Homo sapiens: one gene and its partners. The protein of the gene in region 1 purifies or fractionates together with the protein of each later gene. This does not show direct contact. Each region holds a gene or a part of one and is shown in the gene's direction. Other genes may lie near its edges.

Region 1 (6,190 bases):
CACCACCATCAACACCAGCTGCTGAGGACTGGAGGCTACTGGGTGGCCAGGCAGAGGCTTGGACCTCCTGGAACCGCCATGGTGGCAGTGGGACCCACAGAAGGGGCCAGGTGTATGAGGCTGGAGACTCCACAGCACTTGGTCAGATGGGGACAGGAGGAGAGGGGCTCGCTCTGCCTTGGGTCTAGGGGGCGGCTGGAGGAGAGGAGACAGGCTGGGGAGTCAGCGCAGTGTTGGGGCTCACACAAGGGGGAGCCCAGGGGAGTCAGGAGCACCACAAACAAGGCTCCAGGAGGACAGATGGTGGGAGCACGGCCAGCCTGGGTGGGGACATAAAGGGGTGGCAGGGGGAGGTGGCCAGGGAAGAATCTACATGGCAAGGACTTCCCGGCCCCAGGCCTGGGCTACGCCTCCATGGTGATCGTCTTCTACTGCAACACCTACTACATCATGGTGCTGGCCTGGGGCTTCTATTACCTGGTCAAGTCCTTTACCACCACGCTGCCCTGGGCCACATGTGGCCACACCTGGAACACTCCCGACTGCGTGGAGATCTTCCGCCATGAAGACTGTGCCAATGCCAGCCTGGCCAACCTCACCTGTGACCAGCTTGCTGACCGCCGGTCCCCTGTCATCGAGTTCTGGGAGTGAGTCCGGCACCTCTGGGCCAAGCCCATCCCATCCCCCAGGTCTCCCTCATGTTGCCCGGCTCCAGGGGAGTGGCCCTGAGGGGGCACCAGGGTGTTGCCTGGCAGTCCATCCTGGACCCTGCCTGCCCTTGCCTGTCCTCGGAGAGTCCTGGGGCCAGCCTCGCTCCTGGGTTCGGCAGCCGATCACTGTCCTGGTCACTCCCCCCTGATGGGGGAGCTGGGGCTGCATGTGAGGTGGGATGGGAGTGGCCTCCCAATGGCCAGGGGATCGTGGGCTCCAGGCCCAGCCCAATTGGACAAGAGGGACCCGCTGAACCCTGGGCTGTGGGAGAGAAGGGAGCCACAACTCCTGGGGGTGGACCCTGTGGCTCCATCCTCTGCTGGCACAGGCCTCATGGGACCTCCCTCCCTCCCCTAGGAACAAAGTCTTGAGGCTGTCTGGGGGACTGGAGGTGCCAGGGGCCCTCAACTGGGAGGTGACCCTTTGTCTGCTGGCCTGCTGGGTGCTGGTCTACTTCTGTGTCTGGAAGGGGGTCAAATCCACGGGAAAGGTACCACTAGAGGCATGCAGCGGGGAGGGTGGCTCAGCCCTGGGAGCCGGATGTCTGTGCCAGGCACACCTGTGGCAACGGGAGGTGACCAGACAGAGTCTAGCCCTAAGGAAGGGGGAGGTACTGAAAGCCAAGCAATGCTCCCCACCCTGCAAATCCAGGGCCCAGCAGCCTTTGCTCCTGGGGATAGAGGCCCTGGCAGGCACTGTCCCTTCCCTGTGCCCATCACCCCCACTGGTGCCCTCCTGCCAGTCTCTGACTCTTGTGACAGTCTGGTGGACCTGGTCTGGCCATCTGTTACCTATCTTGCCTTGGGGACCCAGAGCAGAGTCTGGCCACATCCCTTGGGGGCTCCTGGTCAGGCTGGGGAGTCACCTGAACAAAGAAGACAGTGTCTAGAGCTGTGGGACATGGCCAGCTCCCTGGGGGACAAGGTCCCCAGAGCAGCATGTGGGAAGAGGGGGCAGACAGTGTGGCAGCTGCATCTCGCCTGCCTCTGCCTGGCCCAGTTCCACTCTCCACCTGCTCAACCCCCACCTCTCTCCAGAAGAGGAGGGGGACCCGACCCGGATCCAATATCCCGCTCCCTGCCTGGGCCTCCCACACCTGCACTGCCCACACACTCATACAGCTCTCACTCCCCACGTGCTCCACGCCTCCTGTCCCCACTGAGGAGAGCTCCCAGAGGCTCGCCTGCTCCCCACCGACACGCGTCCCTGCAGACAAACGAGGCGCCCAGGGAGCTTCCCCACTGCACTTGGCCAGGGCTGCCGGGGCGCAGCCTTGCCCCTAGCTTCCTCTGGCGGGAGCCATGGCTCGGAGGACAATGGGGACCTCTGAACATACCTGCCCGCAAGGGGGACCGGAGGCGCTGGGAGTGGGGGTGTGAGGGAGGTGGTGCCACAGCCTCCGCTGAGCAGCCTGGCCCCCCAGATCGTGTACTTCACTGCTACATTCCCCTACGTGGTCCTGGTCGTGCTGCTGGTGCGTGGAGTGCTGCTGCCTGGCGCCCTGGATGGCATCATTTACTATCTCAAGCCTGACTGGTCAAAGCTGGGGTCCCCTCAGGTGAGGTGGAGGTGGAGAGGCTGCAGCAGGGCGCTGCGGGGGAGCCCTGCAGGCCCCTCATGCCTGCGCTCTCCGGCCCTTCTCTAGGTGTGGATAGATGCGGGGACCCAGATTTTCTTTTCTTACGCCATTGGCCTGGGGGCCCTCACAGCCCTGGGCAGCTACAACCGCTTCAACAACAACTGCTACAAGTAAGCACCGCCGCCCTGCCACCCGTGCCCTGTCCTGCCCTGCCCCGCCCTGCCCAGCAGCCTAACCCATCCACTCTGGCCCCTCCACCCCTCAGGGACGCCATCATCCTGGCTCTCATCAACAGTGGGACCAGCTTCTTTGCTGGCTTCGTGGTCTTCTCCATCCTGGGCTTCATGGCTGCAGAGCAGGGCGTGCACATCTCCAAGGTGGCAGAGTCAGGTAGGGCCCTACCCCCAGCCCCGCCTCCAGAGCAGCGAGTGCTACCCAGATGCATGATGTACAGGAACATGCAATAGAAATGCTGAAAAGTGACGAGGATTCAAACGGAACTTGTCAGATTGTGGGCCTGTGGGGGCAGGTCCTGGGATTTGTCAATGTTGACAGAGAAAGGACCTCCCAGCCCCTGCCGCACGACCCAGGGTTGACAGCGCCTCTGAGGCAGGCGTGGGCATGGGCGCGAGTGTTGCAGGCAGGGCTCAGGGTGCGCACAGGGCAGGACATCGGCTACAAGGTCTAGAGCCTGCACCTTTCCCACAGGGCCGGGCCTGGCCTTCATCGCCTACCCGCGGGCTGTCACGCTGATGCCAGTGGCCCCACTCTGGGCTGCCCTGTTCTTCTTCATGCTGTTGCTGCTTGGTCTCGACAGCCAGGTTTGCATGGGGCTCTGGGACAGGGAGCCAGGAGGGGGGCGGAGGGAGGGCTGCAGGCAAGGAAAGGGGTGGAGGGCGGTGCGGGGCTCGGCCTGAGCTGCCCTGGCCACAGTTTGTAGGTGTGGAGGGCTTCATCACCGGCCTCCTCGACCTCCTCCCGGCCTCCTACTACTTCCGTTTCCAAAGGGAGATCTCTGTGGCCCTCTGTTGTGCCCTCTGCTTTGTCATCGATCTCTCCATGGTGACTGATGTGAGTGGGGTGGGGGGTCTGCCTGTGACCTCTGGTGGCCGTCTGCCATCCTCCCTGACTGGGCTCTGTCCCCCAGGGCGGGATGTACGTCTTCCAGCTGTTTGACTACTACTCGGCCAGCGGCACCACCCTGCTCTGGCAGGCCTTTTGGGAGTGCGTGGTGGTGGCCTGGGTGTACGGTAGGTCATGGCTGAGGGCTGGGCTGGGGGATGGTGGCGGGGAAGGCAGGTCTCCAGCTTGGCCCTCCCGCCTCACCTCGCCGCAGGAGCTGACCGCTTCATGGACGACATTGCCTGTATGATCGGGTACCGACCTTGCCCCTGGATGAAATGGTGCTGGTCCTTCTTCACCCCGCTGGTCTGCATGGTAAGGGCTGGGGGAGGTGGGGCAGGGCGGGGGGCGAGGCAGGGCGGGGTAGGGGCCCCATTAACCGCAGCATTCTGGTCCGTAGGGCATCTTCATCTTCAACGTTGTGTACTACGAGCCGCTGGTCTACAACAACACCTACGTGTACCCGTGGTGGGGTGAGGCCATGGGCTGGGCCTTCGCCCTGTCCTCCATGCTGTGCGTGCCGCTGCACCTCCTGGGCTGCCTCCTCAGGGCCAAGGGCACCATGGCTGAGGTAAGGCTCCCGCCCGGCCCGCCCTCCCCTCCCCTGCTGTGAACATTCAACCCAGCCTGCTTCCTAGCCAGGGAGTGGCCCCGACTAGGGTGGCAGGCAGTGGGAACCGGAGAGAGGCAGAGGAAGTCACCGTGGGGACGAGCAGGTGACCCTGGGGGCTTCAGCATGTCCTCCTCTCCTGCAGCGCTGGCAGCACCTGACCCAGCCCATCTGGGGCCTCCACCACTTGGAGTACCGAGCTCAGGACGCAGATGTCAGGGGCCTGACCACCCTGACCCCAGTGTCCGAGAGCAGCAAGGTCGTCGTGGTGGAGAGTGTCATGTGACAACTCAGCTCACATCACCAGCTCACCTCTGGTAGCCATAGCAGCCCCTGCTTCAGCCCCACCGCACCCCTCCAGGGGGCCTGCCTTTCCCTGACACTTTTGGGGTCTGCCTGGGGGAGGAGGGGAGAAAGCACCATGAGTGCTCACTAAAACAACTTTTTCCATTTTTAATAAAACGCCAAAAATATCACAACCCACCAAAAATAGATGCCTCTCCCCCTCCAGCCCTAGCCGAGCTGGTCCTAGGCCCCGCCTAGTGCCCCACCCCCACCCACAGTGCTGCACTCCTCCTGCCCCTGCCACGCCCACCCCCTGCCCACCTCTCCAGGCTCTGCTCTGCAGCACACCCGTGGGTGACCCCTCACCCCAGAAGCAGCAGTGGCAGCTTGGGAAATGTGAGGAAGGGAAGGAGGGAGAGACGGGAGGGAGGAGAGAGAGGAGAAGGGAGGCAGGGGAGGGGCAGCAGAACCAAGGCAAATATTTCAGCTGGGCTATACCCCTCTCCCCATCCCTGTTATAGAAGCTTAGAGAGCCAGCCAGCAATGGAACCTTCTGGTTCCTGCGCCAATCGCCACCAGTATCAATTGTGTGAGCTTGGGTGCGAGTGCACGCGTGCGTGAGTACGGAGAGTATATATAGATCTCTATCTCTTAGCAAAGGTGAATGCCAGATGTAAATGGCGCCTCTGGGCAAAGGAGGCTTGTATTTTGCACATTTTATAAAAACTTGAGAGAATGAGATTTCTGCTTGTATATTTCTAAAAAGAGGAAGGAGCCCAAACCATCCTCTCCTTACCACTCCCATCCCTGTGAGCCCTACCTTACCCCTCTGCCCCTAGCCAAGGAGTGTGAATTTATAGATCTAACTTTCATAGGCAAAACAAAAGCTTCGAGCTGTTGCGTGTGTGAGTCTGTTGTGTGGATGTGCGTGTGTGGTCCCCAGCCCCAGACTGGATTGGAAAAGTGCATGGTGGGGGCCTCGGGGCTGTCCCCACGCTGTCCCTTTGCCACAAGTCTGTGGGGCAAGAGGCTGCAATATTCCGTCCTGGGTGTCTGGGCTGCTAACCTGGCCTGCTCAGGCTTCCCACCCTGTGCGGGGCACACCCCCAGGAAGGGACCCTGGACACGGCTCCCACGTCCAGGCTTAAGGTGGATGCACTTCCCGCACCTCCAGTCTTCTGTGTAGCAGCTTTAACCCACGTTTGTCTGTCACGTCCAGTCCCGAGACGGCTGAGTGACCCCAAGAAAGGCTTCCCCGACACCCAGACAGAGGCTGCAGGGCTGGGGCTGGGTGAGGGTGGCGGGCCTGCGGGGACATTCTACTGTGCTAAAAAGCCACTGCAGACATAGCAATAAAAACATGTCATTTTCCAAAGCAGGCTCCTGCTTCCGCCTCTGCTGCTCTAAGGAAGGGGTCGGGGTACAGGAGGCAGGGGGAACCTCCTCCAGCTGGAGCTGCTGCCGTGAGCAAGGCTCTGCTCTGGAGGCCTCTGCGGCCGGCACCCTTCTGGGGACTGGGAAGGGGGCAGGGAAGGCAGCAGCCCAGGGGAAGGCCTTGTCCCCCTGGAGCCGAGGCAGTTGGGGAGAGCAGGACGAGAGTGAGCTGGAGAGCAGCCACACCCGCGGGGAAGGGTGGGCGTAAAGCCATGGGTGCTGAAATTTTCAAAATGTTACCCCAAGAATTTGTCACTGAACAGGTGCCTTGTGTCACTTGGGCCAGGCTGGTAGCAGCAGAGGGGATAACTCTGCATCAGGGATCAATTTTGAAGGTGGAGCCAATAGGGGTTGTGCATGACCAGGATGCAGGGCTCAAAGAGGAGTTAAGGACAACAGATTTGGCCTGAGCAAGAGGAAAGATGGAGCTGCCAGGTCCTGCAATGGGG
Region 2 (7,027 bases), on another chromosome or scaffold:
GCTATAATTAATTCTGTCTTCTAAAAAATGTTTGTTTTTTTGTTTGTTGTTGGTATAAACAGTTTTTCATACACACACACATATATATTTGGTCTATTGACCTTACATCAAGTGATCTTTCTAAATTTACCTGTTCTAATACTTTGTAGAGTCTTTTGGATTTTCGTCATATTTCTCTTGATACTGAATTCATTTGGTTTTCCCTATTAAACAGTCTAGGGTTCTGTAGGATCATGGAAGGAGCTAATGTTGTAAGATTATATTTAAAGATAGCCTTTACTGATTTTTCTTTCTGTAACAGTGTTACTCAGAAATACTTAACTCTTTTCTTTAGGAATACTTTCAAGTCATCCCAAATATGGTTCCATCCCTAAACTTATACGTAAGTATGAACAACATTGTAGTTTTCATAGCTTTTTAAAACTTAAATAAAATTATTTTTATCAAATGTTTTATCATGTCTTACTCATATTAGTTATGTGGTTACATGCTCTGATAAATCAGTTTGTTAAAGCATTTCATTAAGTGGATTACTTGGATATTTTATTGTTAGCATAAAAAATCATCAGTTGAAATAGGCATTTTTTTGTGTCTTTATAATGTAATAGAACAATTAATTTAAAATTATTTTGTAAGGATAAAGTATTTGAAAATAAATTTTTGGTCTGTCTATGGGGAAACAAAGTTATGAAGATATTCTGATTAATCAAAATAAAGTATATTTAAAATTAAGCTTAATTTTTAAAAGAAATCTCTCTAATTTGTATTTTAAAATGTAAATAAGCATAACTTATTTACACATTGCAATATAGTTAATAGAAAAAGAAGCTACATTGCCCATCAATGATAGACTGGATTAAGAAAATGTGGCACATATACACCATGGAATACTATGCAGCCATAAAAAAGGATGAGTTCATGTCCTCTGTAGGGACATGGATGAAGCTGGGAACCATTATTATCAGCAAACTATCACAAGGACAGAAAACCAAACACCGCATGTTCTCACTCATAGGTGGGAATCGAACAATGAGAACACGTGGACACAGGAAGGGGAACATCACACACCGGGGCCTGTTGTGGGGTGACGGGAGTGGGGAGGGATAGAATTAGGAGATATACCTAATGTAAACGACGAGTTAATGGGTGCAGCACACCAACGTGGCACATGTATACATATGTAACAAACCTGCACATTATGCACATGTACCCTAGAACTTAAAGTATAATAAAAAATAAGTAAATAAATAAATAAATAAAAGAAAAAGAAGCTACATTGCTCTTCAAAAGAAGTACCTGAGGCTTTTCATGAGTCTTTCAGGTTAGCCTTTCTTTTCTATTTGAAACTCATGTGATGCAGTAAGTGCCACGTTTAGGTTATGGTTCGTAATTTATTACTTTAAGGGATTTGTTGCACCTAATTTTACTTTAAAACAATCTTGTGAAAATGGCTGTGCATATGATATTCTGTTTTATAGGAAAATAATGGCCTAAATCCTTGTGATCTAGTTCTGTTTATTTAGAACTAGAAATAAATAAATGTTTTGATGCTTTTATTCCTTATCCATTCCTCTTCCCATTATACCTTTACTAAATCTTTCCTGTATATATTATAAAGTAATTAGTATACTATAATTGATTTATTTATAGCAGCTTTATTTTGGCACACTTTTTTTGGAAACTGAATTATATCCATAGACTCTGTATATGAACTCTGATCTGATTTAATTTTGATTTCTTCTACCATTATTTCAGGAAATCTCAGTCTTTCTAAACCAAAGACTTATTTAGAATCACACTTTAAAACAAATTTTTCTTTTAGAAAATACTTTTGTCTGAAAGGCACATTCAGTTACACTTTTTGTTTGATTTTACAAATAAGTTGCTTGTATCATGGGATACTTTGCTGGAAAACTTTCTTATGTGAAAACTTGCCAAGAGAAATTCAAGAAACTTGAAAATTCCCCCCTTGGAGAAGCTTTACGATCAGGACAAGCACGACGATCTTCACCACCTGGGTAGGCCAGATTCTGATCTTTACTTAAGATTTTTAATTTTTAAGAAACAACTAGATGTTGCTATAACTCATGGCTCAAAAACATTGCCTGAAGGACCACTGGATACTTGCCATTTGCTGTAGGCTAAAAGTAATTTGCTTCAAAAATTGGAGCAAGACTTGCCACCATTTATTTATTTATGAATGAATGAATGAATGATGGGATCTCCCTCTGTTGCGCAGGCTGGAGTACAATGGCATGATCCTAGCTCACTGCAGCCTCAAACTCCTGGGTTCACAAGGCCCCACTGCCTCAAGCTCTCTGAGTAGCTAGGAATACAGGTGTCAGCCACTGCACCCAGCTAATTAAAAAAAAATTTTTTTTATGGAGATGGGGGTCTCACTATGTTGCCCAGGCTGGTGTTGAACTAGTGGGCTCAATCAGTCCTCCTGCTTTGGCTTCCCAAATTGTTGAGATTACAGGTGTGAACCACTGTGCCTGGTTCTTCATTTTTGTTTTGTTTTGTTTTGAGACAGAGTTTCACTCTGGCTCCCAGGCTAGGAGTACAGTGGCGTGATCTCGGCTCACTGCAACCTCTGCCTCCTGGGCTCAAGTGATCCTCCTCCCTCAGCCTCTGGAGTAGCTGAGACCACAGGCATACACCACCACGCCTAGCTAATTTTTTGTATTTTTTGAAGAGACAGGGTTTTACTGTGTTTACCAGGCTGGTCTCAAACTCCTGAGCTCAAGTGATCTGCCCCACTTGGCCTCCCAAAGTGCTGGGATTACAGGCGTGAGCCACTGCATCTGGCCTTCATTGTTGTAAATATAGAGTTGTGTCCTATTGGGAGTACATGTTCTAGAATAAAGGATTTTATCTCGATTCAATTTGGCAAACACCTTTGGTTACTATAGTTTGGACTTTTCTTTTGAATTCCCAAATCTTATCAATCCCATCTCTTAACAGATTTCAGCTTTTCATTTTAATGCTTCTTAAACAGATAGGCAAGCAATATAATCCCCATGAGAGAGAATTTGTATCTGCTTTAGCAAATTAGTGTTTATATAGATTCTTAGCTGTGATATTACCTTCTCAATTGACATGGGAAACGGGCATGGTTATTGAAATTAGACCTGATTTAAAGTGCTTTTTCTTTCCAAGAACTTTCAAACATACTAAAATTATCTTGAAAGGCTGGGTATACATTTCCTATTTTTCTATACTGACAGTGACTGCTTTTAAGATGTATAAGTGGGTCAGGACTTTTTAAAAGTGTTTTGTTGGCAGAAAGAAACAGACCTCATTTTACTGATTATAAATAACTGCGTTAAAAATTATTTTGAGGCCAGACGCGGTGGCTCATGCCAGTAATCCCAGCACTTTGGGAAGCTGAGGCAGGAGGGTTGCTTGAGCCCAGTAGTTTGAGACCAGCCAGGGCAATATAGTGAGACCTCATCTCTACAAAAAACCAAGTGGTGGCGCATGCCTGTAGTCCCAGCTACTTGGGAAGCTGAGGGGTAGGAGGATTGCTTGAGCCTAGGAGGTGGAGATTGCAATAAGCCAAGACTGCGTCACTGCACTATAGCCTGGGTGACAGAGCAAGACCCTGTCTCAAAAAAATAAAAAAAATTATATGTATATATAATTTTGGAAATAAGCTATATGAAAGAAGTTATTTTAACACTTCTTTAAGATATAGGCAATGACTCATATTTCTTACTACAATATGATTTTCATTTACAGGCACTATTATCAAAAGTCAAAATATGACTCAAGTGTGAGTGGTCAATCATCTTTTGTGACATCCCCAGCAGCAGACAACATAGAAATGCTTCCTCATTATGAGCCAATTCCATTCAGTTCTTCTATGAATGAATCTGCTCCCACTGGTATTACTGATCATATTGTCCAAGGTAGAAACTTCTCTTGAAATGAATTTCAACATTTTATGGTCCAACGTATGTATAAACTTTATTTGATGACCTTTTCTGCTGGATATCACCTGTGTGTTCTACCATCAATCATCAACCTAAACTCAGCATGTTTGTTCATTTGTTTCTTCATTCATTCAACTTTTCTTGAGGACCAGTAGGTGTCAAGGACTCTGCTAGACGTGGAAGAAGATGAATAACACTTGGTTCTTGTCCCTGAAAAACTTTCAGTCTGTTAGAAGATATAGAAATACAAGGATGAATTACTAGTATGTCCCAGTAATTGAAAATACTAAGGCAAGCTTAGTGGAATAGTGAAGAAGAAATGATAAATCGTGTCTCAGGAAGTAGAGCTCCAGGAAAGGTATAAAAAGGTTACATTTGATAGGCTGGGTTTTAAAGGCTTTCAGCTTCCCTGTCTGTAATACAAGAAAGAACTGTTGTCAAGTGAGAAAATCCATGTGAAAATGCTTTGTGAAGTTTGTAAATACTAGCTTTGAAGATCACACATGTAAGTGCAACAACATCAATTTTGTATTAAGGCTTGGATTTGAATCATGATTGACATTTGCTAGCTATGTGACCTTGTAATACTACTACTACATTATAATAATGTAGTAATATTATTATAACTACTTTATGATCCTTTCAGTTTCTTGATCAGTTGAATGGAGATGATACTACCTCTCTTAATGAACTGTTGGAATTAGAGGAAATAATCAGAGGCAATGTCTGGCAAATAATAGACTCAAAAAACATTAGTTTCTTTCCTTCAGTCTAGTCGGCAGTAAAAGATGAGGAATTAGAAACGGGAAATACAGGTCTGTAATTCTTTATCTAAAATCCTGAAATTCAAAAAGGTTTAAGCCAAGTTTTTTTTTGTTTTTTGTTTTTTTTTTTTTTTTTGAGATGGAGTCTTGCTCTGTCGCCCAGTCTGGACTGTAGTGGTGCGATCTCGGCTCACTGCAACCTCCGCCCCCCCAGCTTCACGCCATTCTGCCTCAGTCTCCTGAGTAGCTGGGACTGCAGGTGCCCGCCACCACGCTCGGCTAATTTTTTGTATTTTTAGTAGAGATGGGGTTTCACTGTGTTGGCCAGGATGGTCTTGATCTCCTGACCTCGTGATCCGCCCGCCTCGGCCTCCCAAAGTGCTGGGATTACAGGTGTGAGCCACTGCCCCCGGCCTGTTTTTGTTTTTTAATAATTAAACTGGTAATAAAATCTGACCTGAATTCATTTAGCAGAATACCCTGACCTAAATTCACATAAGTTATATAAACGTAGACTTTATTTACTTTGCCAGATAAGATTTTTCCTTTATTTCATTATAGAAATATTAATGTGTTTGCTTACTCATTCCTGTCCTAAACCTCTGAATGGATGGATATTAAGTAATATAAGGGGTATTTACTGTAGTATTTTTCTAAAACCTCAGAAACTTTGAATAGTGAAACATACCTGACCCCAAGGTTTGGATAAGGGATTATGGACCTTTGTAGAGTATACTCTTTAAATTTTAAAAGATTAGAGGGAAAGAAGTTAAAGGGAGGGGAGGGTATACAGTGGAAAGGGAGAAGTTGATTATAGGTCAGAGAAGGTTCTAGAGAATGCAGAAGGGGGTTCTAGGTAGGTCAGAGTAGCCGCTAGCCATATGTGGCTATTTAAATTAATTAAAGTTAAATGAAATTTAAAATTCAATTTCTCAATTGCTTTGGTAGCATTTCACTTGCTCAATAGTCACATGTGCTAGTGGCTACCGTGTTAGTGCCAATATAGAACATTTTCATCATTGCAGAAAGTTATGTTGGACAGCACTACTTAAGAGCAAAAGTCGGGGCAAAGGGGTGAGTATTAGCCTTGTATAAAGGAAGAGACAGGAAAGAATGGAAGTTCAGATGATTAAAGAATTTGGATGAAAGTTATTGAGAGCTTCTTAATCCTCAACTCTGATTTTTTTATTTTTTTCTTTAATGGTTGGAAGCAAAGGCATCAAATTAGTCAGAAAAGGAAGGAAGGGAATGGGCAGATTAGGAGAGAATGGCTAAAGTCACTATCTTATCTCCAAAGGCAGCTGTCCTTGTTCCTCACTATGTCTCATTTAACCAGTCTGAAGTTCAAATCCATTCTTCTTGTACAGTAGTCCCCCCTTATCCATGGGGGATAAGTTCGAAGACCCCTGTGGATGCCTGAAACCTCAGATATTACCAAATCCTTTATGTTCTATGTTTTTTTGATCTAGATGGCTACTAAGTTACTAACAGGCATGTAGTGTAGACAGTGTGGATATGCTGGACAAAGGGATGATTCAAGTCCTGGATGGACCAGAGCAGAACCTCACAAGATTTTATCACACTACTCAGAACAGGGTGTAATTTAAAATTTATGAACTGTTTATTTCTGGAATGTTCCATGTAATATTTTCAGACCATGGTTGACTGCAGGTAACTGAAACCCTGGAAAGCGAAACCACAGATAAGGGGGCACTACTGTATTCTAGACATGCACTAACTCTTTCCTTGTGATGACTTGCATCTTCCCCACCATTTGCATTAGGAAATTCTGTTATATAGTTTTTTTCCATACAAAAGCCAACAAACAAAAAGCCCTTTGGTATCTACCCACAGACTACTTAGCAAGGCCATGTCTTAATATTATTTTATGCCTTCCACAGCAGCCATCCATCCATCCACTGCTCTGCCTTCTGACCCCCTTCTCTAAATCAAAGTGGCTACTTTTTTACTGCTCTCCACATGGGCCAGCAGTGGCCTGCTTTTGCTTTGCCCCAGATGCTATCCTCCCCTACCAGGGCATCTTATTCTTTGGTTTAAGTCCTACTTTAGTTCTGCTTTCTTTTACCAGGAATTCAGAGAGTTATTAATCTTTTAAAATAGCAAGCACTCCTTCAGAGCTGTTAGGAGACTTAGAGTTTATTACAGTTAGATTTAAATCAGTGCCACTTTACATTTTTTTATTCCTTCCAGTTCTTTATAACCTTCCCAAAATAGTAAATCATGTTCTCTCCATAGTGTGGGAAATTCTCCCCAGTCTTCTTCTGTCTGATGTATATTTTCATTATTTGTTCCAGAATTTTATAATGG
Region 3 (7,315 bases), on another chromosome or scaffold:
GTAATCCCAGCTACTCAGGAGGTTGAGGCAGGAGAATCACTTGAACCTGGGAGGCAGAGGTTGCAGTGAGCTGAGATCGTGCCACTGCACTCCAGCCTGGGCAACAGAGCGAGATTCCATCTCAAAAACAAACAAACAAACAACAACAACAAAAACCCAATGGTCATCTCAAGTCCTATGGCTGGCCAGAGTATGATATGTTTAAGCAGCTGAAAGAAGACCAATGTGGTCTTCTCACAAAGGAGTGAAAAATCACCAGATTCTAAGGTTTGAAAGGACCAATTTCAGTTTAAAAACTGACATTAGTAGAGCAATTCATTTCCAAATGACCTAGAACACTTCTACTGCACCTTGCACTGTCTCTTTGTAAATATCCATCACATTGGTCATTGTTTACTGTCTGTCTTCTATTCCAGGTATGCGTTTCAAGAACAAAGACTAAATCTGTCTTGTTAATAATTATATCCTACAACTCAGGACTTGCTTGGTGCATTGCAAGTCTTCTTTAAATATATTTAAAATGAGTAACTTTGTAGAGCCATATATCATTTTTATGTTTGTTTCTTGGTTAAACTATCTTAAGGTTTTATTCTCATTTATGTGAGGTATTTTTTCTTTTCATTCCCTCAATAAATAATGACCACTAAATATTTGACAGTATAGCACCAGGTAGTAGGAGCTGGAAAAATGAAACAACTCCCAGTTCCTGAGGAGTACCAGTCTAGTGGGAAGACAGACTTGCAAACAATAGAAGATAGTATGATTATTGCTAAAATGAAATTATGTACAAAATACAAGTGAGTCCTCATAGACCCAAGTGTAAGAGCTAAAACCATAAAACTCTTAGAAGAAAACACAGGAGTAAATCTTTGGAATCTTGGGTTAGGCACTGATTTCTTATATAGGACAACAATAGCAAGTGATTAAAGAGAAAACAGGTAAGTTGGACTTTGCTGAATTAAAAACTTTTGTGCTTCAAAGAAAACCATCAAGAAAGTAAAAAGACAGACTGAAAGAAAATATTTTCAAATCATATATCTGCTAAGATCTAGAATCTATCTTTTATTTTTTAAAATAAATTACAGAACAACATGGACATATAGAATAGATATTTTTAAACCCTTACAACTCAATAAACTTTAAAAAATTAATCCAACTTAGAAATGATAAAGGATTTGAATAGACATTTCTACAAAAAAAGATATACAGATGGCTTCTGAGCACCTGATAAGGCTAGTAGTCAATATCATTAGTGCTCAGGGAAATGCAAAGCAAAATCACAATGAGATATTACTTCACACCCACTAGGACAGATAAGATTAAAAGACAGAAAATAAAAGTATTGGCAAGGATGGGAAGAAATTGGAACCTCTACACATTGCTAATAGGATGGGAAATAGTGCATTCACTTTGGAAATTAGTGTGAGAGTTCCTCAAAACGTCAAACATAAAGTTGCCTTATGATCAGCAATTCCACTGCTAGGTATATACCCAAAGGAATTGAGTTCAAACAAAAACTTGTACACAAATGTTCATCAACTGATGAATAAGATGTGCTATAGCCATACAATGGAATATTATTTGGCCATAAAAAGGAGTGAAGTACTGATACATGTTACAACATCGATGAACCTTGGAAACATTATCTTCAGTGAAAGAAGTCAGTCACAAAAGATCATGATTCTATTTACATGTAATGTCCAAGCTGGCCATGGTGGTTCACACCTGTAATCCCAGCACTTTGGGAGGTGGGAGAATTTCTTGAGGCCAGGAGTCCAAGGTTGCAGTGAGCTATGATCATGCCACTGTACACCAGCCTAGGCAACAGAGCAAGACCCCATCTCAAAAAAAGAAAGAAAAGAAACAAAGAAAGAACAAAAAGAAATGTCCACAATAAGCAAATATAGAGAGGTAGAAAATAGGTCAGTTGTTGCCAAGGGCTGCCAAGACTATGAGGGGAAATGGAGAGTTACTGGTAATGTGTATAAGGTTTCTTTTAGAGATTACAAGAATGTTCTAAAGTTATATTATGGTGATTGTTGCACAACTTTGCAAACATACTAAAAACCACAGAATTGAATATCTCAAATAGCTGAACTATATGACATAAATTATACTGCAATAAAACTATTTCAAAAATGCAATTGAATCATAAAAGATAAATTGCTTAGGTCACAGAATTCAGTGAAGCTTTCGAAGAGGTCATGTGTAAATGAGACATGAAGGAACAGCAGGAGCCTGCTGTGTCTATGAAAGGACAGGAGAAAACATTCCAGACAGAGACAGCAGTACACGCAAAGGCAGGGGAGAGCATGGGAAGAGAGCATGTCATGGCATGTACAGTCGTCCCTCAGTCTTCACAGGGGACTGGTTCCAGGGCCCCCGCGGATACCGAAATCCACCCATGCTCAGGTGCCTTATATAAGATGATGCAATATTCTGGTAAAGAATATCCTAAATCCTCCCACAGACCTCCAATCATTTCTAGATTACTTATAATAACACAACATAACTGCTAAATAAATAGTTGGCTGTACTATATTATTTAGGGAATAATCATGGGGGGGTAGTCTGTAGATGTTCAGTACAAATGCAGTTTTTTTCTTGAATATCTTTTACTCCAGGTTGGTTGAATCCACAGTGTATGCGGCACCCACAGATATGGAGAGGCAACTGTATAGTGTGTGTAGTCAATAATGCTGGTACAGAGATTATGGCCTGTAGATGCAGGGCTCCAGTCTGTTGGGGTAGGCAAGGACCAAATCAGAAAGGGCTATTTCATCATGCTAGCTTTCCATGAAGGGAAAGGGAACCCGCTGAAAAACTTTCTGCCAGTAGAAGCATCATTCTAGTATAAACGTTGAAAGGTGATCTGAAGGGAAATGAAACTAGTGATTGCCCAGAAGGAGGAAAAGAATAATCCCTGACTAAATTTATAAAGCCCTTACTCCCCGCTAAGCAGTTTCCTTCAATCATCTCATTTAATCACTAAAATGAGCAATAGTTATCCCCACTTTATAGATGATATCCACAGGGCTTGCTCCCTCACCTCCTGCAGGTCTTCAGGCAAGTATAAGTGCCTCGCACTTTCCTATTCCCCTTGCTTTATTTTTCTCCTGGTTGCTCAACTCAATTTAACATCTGTTTCGCTTTTGAAATCTTGTTTAAAGATTCTCTCCCACACTAGAATGATAAGTCCCTAGGAATAATTTAATTTGTATTTCAGTTCTGTATCCCCAGTGCCCAGGACACAGTCAACCCTCAGTAAGTACATAAATGAATACATTTTTAAAAATGAGGAAATCGGGTCCCATAGAGATTAAGTAACTTGTCCTTGATCGTACAAGTAATAAGTGGCAGAATTCTGATTTAACAACCCACATTCTTAAACCACTAAGTGGTTACACCAGAGTTGTAATATTGTAGGCAAGAGGCAAGTACCCTCGGACTGCGGTAGTGGGGAAGCGGGGTGATAGGTCTGCCTCGAATTGGTGATGACTGGATGTGGAAGGGCGCTGAAAGGGCTCAATCTAGCATGACTTTGGTTTCTACATTTGGCTTATGGGTAAACAGGAGAGCAATTCTTCAGGAAAAAGAATACAAAGGACTCCAGGTTTGGGCAAAACGATAAGAGGAGGACGTGTCTTAATCCACGATCCTTTTTAACTCTTTTACTATTTCCCTTAGATTACTAAAACATGTTGTTAATTTGAATATATGTGAAGCCAGTAAACCCAAACTGATCCCTTCGTCTTCAGTCTGAGGCCAGTGGGGGATAGGGGTGGGGATGGGGACGGGGATGGGGGTGGGGACGGAGAGGCAGACCAGAATAGGGTCAGCTCTTTTTTTTTTTTTAAGTTAGTCCAAACTTACCAAGAGTAGAAATAAGTCCCCAGCAGTGCTTAACTCTGAGGTAATTTTTAAGGCAGATGCTAAAACTGGAGAATACACCGTACCCTTGTGGAGTCAGGTAGTATTCGTAGTTTTAGATTATCCTGACGGTGTTAGTCACTTGTAGAAGTGACAATGTGCAACAGGCCACTGACACCCAATCCCTGGATGGCCAGGAGGGCAGGAGGGCACCCGGCCGCGGCCTCAGGCTGCTGAGCAGGCGCAGGAAGCTCGCGCCTCAAACGACTCCCAAACCCGGGCCCGGCGCGAAGCAGGGAAGCGCCGCTCACATTCCTGCACGCTCGCCCGGCCGCGGGCCAGCGGCCTCCGGTCCCCAGGTGGCGCTGTGGGCTCGCGGAGGCGGCCGCGGCACCAGGGAGCGTCGTCTCCCTGGTGCGCATGCTCGCCCCCGCTGCGGGCTAGCTGTTGTGTTTTTTTTTTTCCCCCGGGCGGCCCGGCGGCTGCGTACTGGCTGTGGGATGGGAAGTGAAGCCCCAGCGAGCGGCTGCAGCGGGGCCGTGAGGAGCAGCCAGCGGGAGGCGGCGGCGAGTCGGTGAGCAGCTGGGAAGAGCAGAACCGGGGCGGAGCACCTGCAGGCGCGGGCGGCGGCCCCACCATGGCGATTCGCAAGAAAAGCACCAAGAGCCCCCCAGTGCTGAGCCACGAATTCGTCCTGCAGAATCACGCGGACATCGTCTCCTGTGTGGCGATGGTCTTCCTGCTGGGGCTCATGTTTGAGGTGAGCCCGCCCCGAGTCCCAACCGCCTGCCCCGCCACCTCCAGCCCGGGCCCGGGCTCCAGATGCCAGCCCCGGCTTCTCCGCCCAGGACGCGGGGGGCTCGGGCCCGGGGTGGGTGCAGACCCCCAGTCCCTGAGGTGCAGGCCTTCCCTGCCCTGCCCCACGTCGGCGGCAGCTCCCCGGCGGCCGGCCCGGAGATGCAAAGTCCCGGTGGGCCTCATCGCGGCCCGCAGGGGGTGGGGACCGCCGCGTCGCCCCCTTCCTGACCCGCCGCCGCCCCCTCCCGCAGGCTGCGCGGCGCAGTTCCTGGTTCCCGCGAAGGGTTACGTGGCAGCCGGCGAGGGGCCTGCGGGCGGGGGCGGCCCCTGCGCTGCCGAGCTGGCTCGGGGCGGGTGGGCGGACTTGGGGGGACTGCCAGCCTCGGCCGCGGTGAGCGTCAGCCCCGCGAGGGCCGGGGAAGGCCGAGGCCCGGCCCCCGGGTCTGAGGAGTGCCGGCCTGGAGACCACAGGCCCCGAGTGACAGGGGAGCCCCCGGTAGCTCCGAGATTGGGGTGAGCGAGAAACCGGAGTCAGGCATCTGCTTTCGACTTGAAGGGCGGTGGCCGCCGGGCACCGGCGCAGTGGAGGCGCGCCAGATTGTTTTCATTTTTGTCTTTTAAACTGATATTATTACCAGTTAACGAACTTTTTGCCCTGACGCTTTAAAGAAACAAGGTCTGATGGATAAATCGAGGTTCTGAACAGCGGTGCCAAGGAATCGAGTAATTTTGTTTCTTGAAGTAGGAGAGGATGGGAATGTCAGGAGTGTGTAAATTCTCTTCCCACGTATCTAGTATTTTGATGACTTATTTAACAGCTGTTGAATGTGGATGATAAACTTTGCAAGGTGAACGAGTAACATCCTACGTTTTTCCCCTCGCTCCCCAATACACACGCTCATTCCTTTGCTTTTTTCCCTTTTTAATTTTTCTCTGGAGCCTTTATGTCTCAGTAAATATACAAATTATTTTGCTCCTGCCTTGTTTTGTCTCCTCTCTCCTGCATGTAACAAGTGAGAGTAGAGATTTTGGAGTATTTTTACGAGTCTGTATTTCCAGAGTCTAGGATAGTGCCTGGGACATAGGAGTGCTTAAAAAAAGATGAGCGACGTTAAGAATCCTTGAGAAAACCTAATGGAATGATATTACCAGTGACCAAAAGGTGAATACATTTTCTTTTTAATGGAGCATATTTGTTTTTTTTTTTAATTTTAAAATTAAATAATATTTTAACCTTATTTTCGCCTCTCATCAAATGGGCTTTTCTGGATCTAGATACAGATATTATTTACTCCTGATTGTGTCATGCATGTTTGAAACCACTGCTAAGGAGGTAGCAGGTATAGTTAAAGGGTAGGTAGAAGGAAACTAACATTCTCAAGCTTTAAGTCTGGGCTGTGCCACCTACCTACTGGGTGACCCAAGTCTGAGCCTCAATTTTTCTGCTCTTTATCAGGAAATAATATCACCTGTACTGTTCTCCTCACAGCCATTTTTTGCAAGTATCAGATGATATGGTGTGAAGGTAAATACAGTGCTAGGCCTGGTGCTCTGGCTTATGCCTGTAAACATCCCAACACTTTGGGAGGCCAAGGCAGGAGAATCACTGGAGCCCAGGAGTTCGAGACCAGCCTAGGCAACATAGGGAGACCCTGTCTCTACAAATGATTTTTTAAAAATTAGCCAGGAGTGATAGATAGCACGCACCTGTGGTCTCAGCTGGGCGGCTGAGGTGGGATAATTACTTGAGCCCAGGAGGTGGAGGCTGCGGTGAGCCAAGGTTTCACCACTGCACTCCAGCCTGAAGGACAGAGCAAGAAGACCCTGTCTCAAAAAAAACCCAATGTTAAACATTTGTATTCACTTTCTGAATTTGATACTTGCATGTACTTTCTGCTTTGACCTTAAAGTAGTACTTTAATATATGTAGTATATTCAATTTTCTGTAACTTGTCATAAACCATCTCCACATGGTAAGAATTCCTGACTTTAAAAACATATTTTAGGGGTACTGTGACCTGCAAGGTATATTTGCAGTGCTTTGAATGAAATGAAATATAAATCAGAAATTCTGACACATAGTATAACTTTGATTTTATATAAACTATTTTACATTCTCTTACTATATTTCTAGGGAAGTCCACCACCTATACCTTGCCTCACATGTTAGTGATTTTTTTAAACAGTGGATTTTCACCTTTATATAAATTTATAAAATTTGAAAATCTAAATAGACAAAAATACTAAATAGAGGTTTTTAAGTCAATTCAAAAGTGAGTGTTAAAGTGATACACAAAAGTGAAGTTTGTGCGAGTTCTTCCTTTTTCTTACCATATATTAAGGTGTTAGGATTTCAAAGCATGTTATCTATATATAGGACTTTGTAGACTAGGTTAGTTTTGCTATTCGACTTTTAAAACAATTGCTGCTGAATCTCAAAGTTAACATAATTATAGAATTACAGTACTTGTGCTAGAATAATAGAGAAATTGATTTTTTTTTGCAGAACTGTTAAGCCTGTTGTGCAGATACATTGAGGAAATGTCAGAGGATTTATGGTGACATTGACAAAGAAATTCAGAAAGAAAGAAATACTGTATTACTAGCCAAAATGAAGAAGCAATGGAGATACACTGTAAAAGCATGG
Region 4 (7,027 bases), on another chromosome or scaffold:
CCTCTGCTTTTCTTTGTCCTCCATGACATTGATATTTTTGAAGACTGCAGCACAGATAAGTTGTAGACAGCTTTGTATTCTTGGCCCAGGAACCAACAAAAGAAAGTTTTTAAAAAATACTTATTGAAAAATTGGGGGACTGGGTGCGGTGGCTCACGCCTGTAATCCCAGGACTTTGGGAGGCTGAGGTGGGTGGATCACCTGAGGTCAGGAGTTCAAGACCAGCCTGGCCAATGTGGTAAAACCCCACCTCTACTAAAAATACAAAAATTGGCCGGGCATGGTAGCACCCGCTTGTAATGCTAGCTACTTGGGAGACTGAAGCAGTAGAATCGCTTGAACCCGGGAGGAGGAGGTTGCAGTGAACCCAGAGATCAAGCCACTACACTCCAGCCTGGGAGCGAAACTCCATCTCAAAAAAATAAAAATAAAGAATTTGGGGGAGAGTAACTTTCATTCAAAAGGTTCAATATTAGGGCTGGGCACCGTGGCTCACTCCTGTAATCCCACCCAGCACTTTGGGAGGCCGAGGCCGGCAGATCACCTGAGGTCAGGAGTTCAAGACCAGCCTGGCCAACATGGTGAAACTCCGTCTCTACTAAATGTACAAAAAACTAGCCAGGCGTGGTGGAGAGTGCCTGTAATCCCAGCTACTTGGGAGGCTGAGGCAGGAGAATCGCTTGAACCTGGGAAGTGGAGGTGGCAGTGAGCCAAGACCATGCCATTGCATTCCAGCCTGGGTGACTGAGCAAGACTCTGTCTCAAAAAAAAGTTCAATATAGGAAAGAAATATGGTTTTTAGAAAAAGAACACATACTTTGACTTACAGACTTAGATTTAAATCACAGTTCTGCTACTTAGGAGTAGTGTGGCTTTGGGCAAGTTACTTTATCTTCCTGACTCTCAATTTCCTCAGCTCTAAAAGGGTATACATAAAACATTGGCGTGAAGAAATGAGAATAATGTATGTAAACAGAGCAGCACATGATATATATGTGATGAATGGTAACTGACAATATTCGCTTTGGTATAACCTCGCCTAAGTCATGTGAGGATGACTGCTCTTGTCATGTTTGAGGGTTAAATACTTCTGTAGCCCTAGTCCACAGAACATGGAAATGGAGAAAAAGCCAGAGTCAGAACAAGGAAATCAATTGGTTGTCACATTATTTCCTTGCATGTAAATAGCACCTAAGAATTCCTTGCATTTTGTAAGTGCCTAAAAATCTTAACAAGGATATGGAGACCCCTCTAAGTGTTTGTCCCCATATTCAAGTTCTGCAGTATTTGATACTTTCCATTTGCTGTTCACTTTCCAAACTTAATAACTAGGTACGCAATGCTAATGTTCAAGAAATCATTTACTAAGGGACAGCTTAGTATTTGTCCATCAGTTGGCTTATTGACGTAACCTGTGTGCTAAATTCACTGGAATGTGGCGTAATCAAATCTGGCTCCTTCCACTTCTGAGTTGGTGCAAGAAACACTTGGCAGCTATTAAAGTGCTATTCTTTGCAGTTATTTGGTATAATTTGCCACAGAAGTAAATTCCAGGAGGTAATATTCTTGCTAGGTTACACCCTGTTACCTCCTGACTTAAGGAGTTCATGCTAAGGGCAATGATCTCTATCTAACTCAAGGTGATTCTCTTGGCAGCCGGGAAGATTTCCAGAGGATTCCAGAACTTGCCATCAACCCACTGGGGGACCGGATCATCAATGCCTTCTTTCCAGAGGGGTGAGTCAGTACAGTTGTTGGACTTCCTTCCTGAGGCTATCACAACCTAAATTATTTGCTAATCTGGAATAATGATATTGGTTGTGCCATCTCAGACTGTGATACCCCCTGATTATATTGAGCAATTCTAATTTTGTCATTTCTAGAATATCTCTTCTGTTCTACCCTCCTGTGTGTTTTAAACTTCAAATAGATATATGAGCCTATCTTCAAAATTCTTATGTTTATCATTGATGTAAAACTAGACTTTTAAAAAATGTTTATTTGGAAATAATTTCAAATTTACAAAAAAGTTGCAAAAGTTAAAAGTAATTCGGAGAATACTTGTATATTTATTGCCCTGATGCATCTACTGTTATATTGTTAACATTTTGCCTCATTTGTGTGCTCTCTTCTTAGTAGTAGCCAATAAAAATATAATGCAAGCCACATACGTAATTTTACATTTTCTAGTAACCACATTTAAAAAGTAAAAATAAGTTAACTTTGGTAATATATATTTTATTTAATATATTTAAAATATTATTTCCATATATAATCAATATTAAAAATAACTGAGATCCTTTTTTCGTTTGTTTGTTTGTTTTAAGACAGAGTCTTGCTCGGTCGCTCAGGCTGGAGTACAGTGGTGCCATCTCGGCTCACTGCAACCTCTGCCTCCCGGGTTCAAGCGATTCTCCTGCCTCAGCCTCCGAGATAGTTGGGATTACAGCCACATGCCACCATACCTGGCTAATTTTTGTATTTTTAGTAGAGACAGGGTTTCACCATGTTGGCCAGGCTGGTCTTGAGCTCCTGACCTCAGGTGATCCGCCTGCCTCAGCCTCCCAAAGTACTGGGATTACTGGCGTGAGCCACCATGCCCAGCCTACATTTTTTCATAATAAGTCCTTGAAATCCAGTGTGTAATTTACACTTAAACACATATCAAGTCAGACTGACCATGTTTTCAGTGCACATAACCAGATGTGACAAGTGACTGCAGTATTGAACAGCGCAGCTTGTACACCCGTGCTTACTCTACATACCCTCTCTTGCAGACACTTTTTCCCTCTCTCTTTCCCCTCTCTCTACCTACACATACTCTACGTGTGTGTGTATATACATACATACATGCCTACATGTACGTACATACATACACATACATACATGTATGTATATACACATACTTATGTAATTTTTTTGTGTATGTGTGTTCACATAATTGTATTTCTGAACTATTTCAGGGTAAGTTGCATAGTAATGACCCTTTACCTCTGAATGCACCAGTGTGTGTTTGCTAAGAATAGGGACATTCTTTTACATATCCATAGTATAGTTATCTACTTCAGTAAACTTAACATTGATACAATCCTCTTATCTAATCTATTACTCTGTTTTATTAACATATTATCCAGTTTATTCTAATTTATATTCATATTCCAATTTTGTCATCCAATAATCTGTTTTATAGCACTTCCCCGCCTCCAGTACAGGATCTAGTCTGGGTCAGTTGTCATGTCTCTTTAGCCTCCTTTAATCTGGAACATTTCCCCAGCCTTTATTTTACTTTCGTGATATTGAATAAACATAGTTCTCACCACATATGCTTTGTCAAGTAGATTGTTCTTAATGTGGGTTTTTCTAACATGAAACTAGTCTTTTGATATGCTTTACTACCTAATACACTGCCTTCACAGTAGTGAGTAAATATTTACTGATTTGATTAGGTACCTTTTCAACAATAAAACTTACATATAAGCTTGTTTTAAGTAATTTCCTAAACAATCTATTCCTGGTTTATATGGATAGTCTATGACCCACAGGACTTCAAAATATTATATGGGTGCCAGTTTTTAATAATGAGACTGTCAATGAGGACACTGTCAGATAAAATGCCTGGAGAGGAAATTTTAGAACTCTAAATTGAGAGCAAAGGAATTTGCTAGTTGAGAGGGTTGGGCATTCAGGAAATGTGAGTGAAAGTCAGAAGGGGAATTAGGTCGGGCAGTTAGTTCATGTAAAGATGGGAATCAAATCACGTTGACTATGAGGAATCTTATGCCCTCTTTCATTTTTTCCTTTCTCTCTCCTTGAACTGCCCTGTTTGTTTCAGGTGTGGTTTTTATGCTGAATTCTTCCTTTTTTCTAATTCCTCTTTTACCCCTGCAAAGCATTGAACCCTATCCAGAGATAACTTTCACAGCTATGCTTTGTATCCAAACCTTTTGCAATGAAAAGTAAACCCAGGAGAGTCACTTTGCCAACTTTTTTTCAGAATTCCTTAGTCACCATTGATTACTTGAAGAAGCAGCTTGTGGGAAGCTGTTTTGTAAGACTAAACTACATTTGCTGTGACTACAATATCACCTGTCATTCTGTCCACCAATCTACTGCTAAGGAAATGGGACAGAGTGCATATGAGGAAGTGGAGGGCTCTACTGGGCTGCACTGCTTAGCTCTTAGCAAGCTGCGACTCTGCTTCTTGCTCTAATCAGATAGATATATTTGGCTTCTGGGTTTTTCTTTCTTCCCTAGGCATATGCACATTGGGGCTTTTTTTTTTTTTTTTTTAAAGAATGAGATTTGAAAGTGGACCATGGTTATTCAATTCCCTTTTACCCAGAAACTTTATGCTAGCAATAATCATTAATGTGTTTTTTCTAGCATATGTTTTAAACTTTACTCCACATTACTTGATTCCTCAGATCTGACATTTTTGACCAGATACTGGTCCATTAGCAGTATAGATACATCGAAGAACTAAAAGGTCATTCTTTTGTTTTGTTTTTTGTTTTTTTGAGACGGAGTCTCCCTCTGTCTCCCAGGCTGGCATGCAGTGGTGTGATCTTGGCTCACCGCAACCTCTGCCTCCTGGGTTCGAGTGATTCTCCTGCCTCAGCCTCCCCAAGTAGCTGGGACTACAGGCTCACGCCACCACGCCTGGCTAAGGTTTCACCACGTTGGCCAGGCTGGTTTTGAACTCTTGACCTCAGGTGATCCGCCCGCCCCGGCCTCCCAGAGTGCTGGGATTATGGGCGTGAGCCACTGCACCCAGCCAAGGTCATTCTTTTGAGTACAGATGGCTCACAGGCTAGCCTTTGAACTCTGCCTTTAGAAGGGCTATGAACTGCATGTCTATAGAGCACAGAAGAGAACCTACATACCTCAGCTATTCGGTGGGGCACAGAAAGGCTGGGGTTTTTTTTTTTTTTAGGTAACCACAGGAACCAGGCCATCTGCCTTAGATAAATAAATTATATTATGTTACATGGGGCATTCTTTTTTAATATTAAAGAACATTCTTCATTCAAGTTTTGAGAATTATTTCTTACAGGGTTATTGATTAGCCTGTGGCACAATGAAAAGATTTTCTCCAAGCTTAAGTACCAAAAAGGCTTTATACACAAGAGGTCTTTCAAAACTTTTTTTTTTTTTTTTTTGAGATGGAGTCTCCCTCTGTCACCCAGGCTGGAGTGCAGTGGTGCAGTCTCGACTCATTGCACCCTCCATCTTTGGGGTTCAAGTGATTCTCCTGCCTCAGGCTCTCAAGTAGCTGGGATTACAGGCATGCACCACCAGGCCCAGCTAATTTTTGTATTTTTAGTAGAGACGGGGTTTCACCATGTTGGCCAGGCTGGTCTTGAACTCCTGACCTCAGGTGATCCACCCACCTTGGCCTCTTGAAGTGCTGGGATTATAGACGTGAGCCACTGTGCCTGGCCTAAAAGATTATTTAGAGAAAAATTATCCAATTATGAGGGAATAATAAAATCATGATGTGTCCACAGAATTATGCATATGTTTTAAATGTTTCAAAGTATTTATATTGATTGGAGAAATGCTTAAAAGTTAAAAAAAAAGGCAGGATACTAATACAGTTATCTGAAAAGCATAGAAAAGTTACTAGAAGAAAATGCATTCATATATATATGAGGGAGTCTTGCACCGTCACCTGGGCTGGAGTGCAGTGGCGCAGTCTCGGCTCACGCAACTTCTGCCTCCTGTGTGTTCAAGTGATTCTCCCACCTCAGCCTCCCAAATAACTGGCAGTATAAGCGTGAGCCACCATGCCTGGCTGATTGATTGATTGATTAATTGATTGATTCCTTCCTTCCTTCCTTTCCTCCCTCCCTTCCTTCCTTTTCCTTTCCTTTTCCTTCCTTTTCCTTTCCTTTCCCTTTCCTTTCCTTTTCTTTTTTTTTGACATAGTCTTGCTGTGTCACCCAGGCTGGAGTGCAGTGGTGCAATCTAGGCTCACTGCAGCCTCTGCCTCCCAGTTTCAAGCGATTCTCCTGCCTCACCCTCCCGAGTAGCTGGGATTACAGGTGCCCACTACCACGTCCAGCTAATTTTTTTGTATTTTTAGTAGAGACAGGGTTTTACCATGTTGGTCAGGCTGGTCTCAACTCCTGGCCTCAAGTGATCTGCCTGCCTCAGCCTCCCAAAGTATTAGGATGATGGGCATGGACCACCGTGCCCAGCCAGAAAATATATTTATATTAACTGTGGTTGTAATTGGTAGAACTCGGATCAGTATTTTTCTATCTACTTTTCTTTTTTCCACATTTTCAAATTTATGTTTGCTTTTATAATTAAATAAACTTGGCTGGGCATGGTGGCTCATGCCTGTAATCCCAGCACTTTGGGAGGCCGAGGTGGGCAGATCATGAGGTCAGGAGATTGAGACGATCCTAGCTAACACGGTGAAACCCTGTCTGTACTAAAAATACAAAAAATTAGGCTGGGTGCAGCAGCTCACACCTGTAATCCCACCACTTGGGAGGCTGAGGCGGGCAGATCACCTGAGGTCGGGAGTTCGAGACTAGCCTGACCAACATGGAGAAACCCCGTCTCTACTAAAAATATAAAATTAGCTGAGCGTGGTGGCGCATGCCTGTAATCCCAGCTACTCCAGAGGCTGGGGCAGGAGAATCGCTTGAACCAGGGAGGCGGAGGTTGCAGTGAGCTGAGATCGCGCCATTGCATTCCAGCCTGGGCAACAAGAGCAAAACTCCATCTCAAAAAAAAAAAAAAAAAATACAAAAAATTAGCCGGGCATGGTGGCGGGCGTCTGTAGTTCCAGCTAGTCAGGAGGCTAAGGCAGGAGAATTGCTTGAACCCGGGAGGCGGAGGTTGCAGTGAGCCGAGGTAGTGCCACTGCATTCCAGCCTGGATGCAAGACTCTGTCTCAAAATAAATAAATAAAGCAAGACTTTATTTATTTATAAGCAGAGCAAGACTCTGTCTCAAAATAAATAAATAAATAAGAAAAATTAAAAATTAAATAAACTTTATTTTAAAAGCGGCC

What was found.
Region 2: the proteins of SLC6A8 (region 1) and OCIAD1 purify together in Homo sapiens (co-immunoprecipitation; 3 studies listed by BioGRID and IntAct, with this or other methods). This does not show direct contact.
Region 3: the proteins of SLC6A8 (region 1) and TRAM1 purify together in Homo sapiens (affinity purification with mass spectrometry; 2 studies listed by BioGRID and IntAct, with this or other methods). This does not show direct contact.
Region 4: the proteins of SLC6A8 (region 1) and CHP1 purify together in Homo sapiens (affinity purification with mass spectrometry; 2 studies listed by BioGRID and IntAct, with this or other methods). This does not show direct contact.

Annotation. Positions count from the first base shown.
Region 1 is NC_000023.11:153,690,907-153,697,096, forward strand, and holds the end of SLC6A8 (sodium- and chloride-dependent creatine transporter 1), read left to right. Parts: intron 1-397; coding exon 398-647; intron 648-1,068; coding exon 1,069-1,201; intron 1,202-2,134; coding exon 2,135-2,269; intron 2,270-2,356; coding exon 2,357-2,460; intron 2,461-2,555; coding exon 2,556-2,680; intron 2,681-2,998; coding exon 2,999-3,111; intron 3,112-3,223; coding exon 3,224-3,361; intron 3,362-3,437; coding exon 3,438-3,540; intron 3,541-3,626; coding exon 3,627-3,727; intron 3,728-3,812; coding exon 3,813-3,983; intron 3,984-4,167; coding exon 4,168-4,308; 3' UTR 4,309-5,682; downstream 5,683-6,190. UniProt on the Homo sapiens protein: Creatine:sodium symporter which mediates the uptake of creatine. Plays an important role in supplying creatine to the brain via the blood-brain barrier.
Region 2 is NC_000004.12:48,848,065-48,855,091, forward strand, and holds part of OCIAD1 (OCIA domain-containing protein 1), read left to right. Parts: intron 1-334; coding exon 335-382; intron 383-1,882; coding exon 1,883-2,018; intron 2,019-3,741; coding exon 3,742-3,911; coding exon of another isoform or gene 3,912-3,928; exon of another isoform or gene 3,929-4,161; intron 4,162-7,027. UniProt on the Homo sapiens protein: Maintains stem cell potency. Increases STAT3 phosphorylation and controls ERK phosphorylation. May act as a scaffold, increasing STAT3 recruitment onto endosomes. Involved in integrin-mediated cancer cell adhesion and colony formation in ovarian cancer.
Region 3 is NC_000008.11:70,605,392-70,612,706, reverse strand, and holds the start of TRAM1 (translocating chain-associated membrane protein 1), read left to right. Parts: upstream 1-4,290; 5' UTR 4,291-4,507; coding exon 4,508-4,630; intron 4,631-5,037; exon of another isoform or gene 5,038-5,830; intron 5,831-7,315. UniProt on the Homo sapiens protein: Involved in the translocation of nascent protein chains into or through the endoplasmic reticulum (ER) membrane by facilitating the proper chain positioning at the SEC61 channel.
Region 4 is NC_000015.10:41,255,254-41,262,280, forward strand, and holds part of CHP1 (calcineurin B homologous protein 1), read left to right. Parts: intron 1-1,446; exon of another isoform or gene 1,447-1,557; intron 1,558-1,656; coding exon 1,657-1,737; intron 1,738-7,027. UniProt on the Homo sapiens protein: Calcium-binding protein involved in different processes such as regulation of vesicular trafficking, plasma membrane Na(+)/H(+) exchanger and gene transcription. Involved in the constitutive exocytic membrane traffic.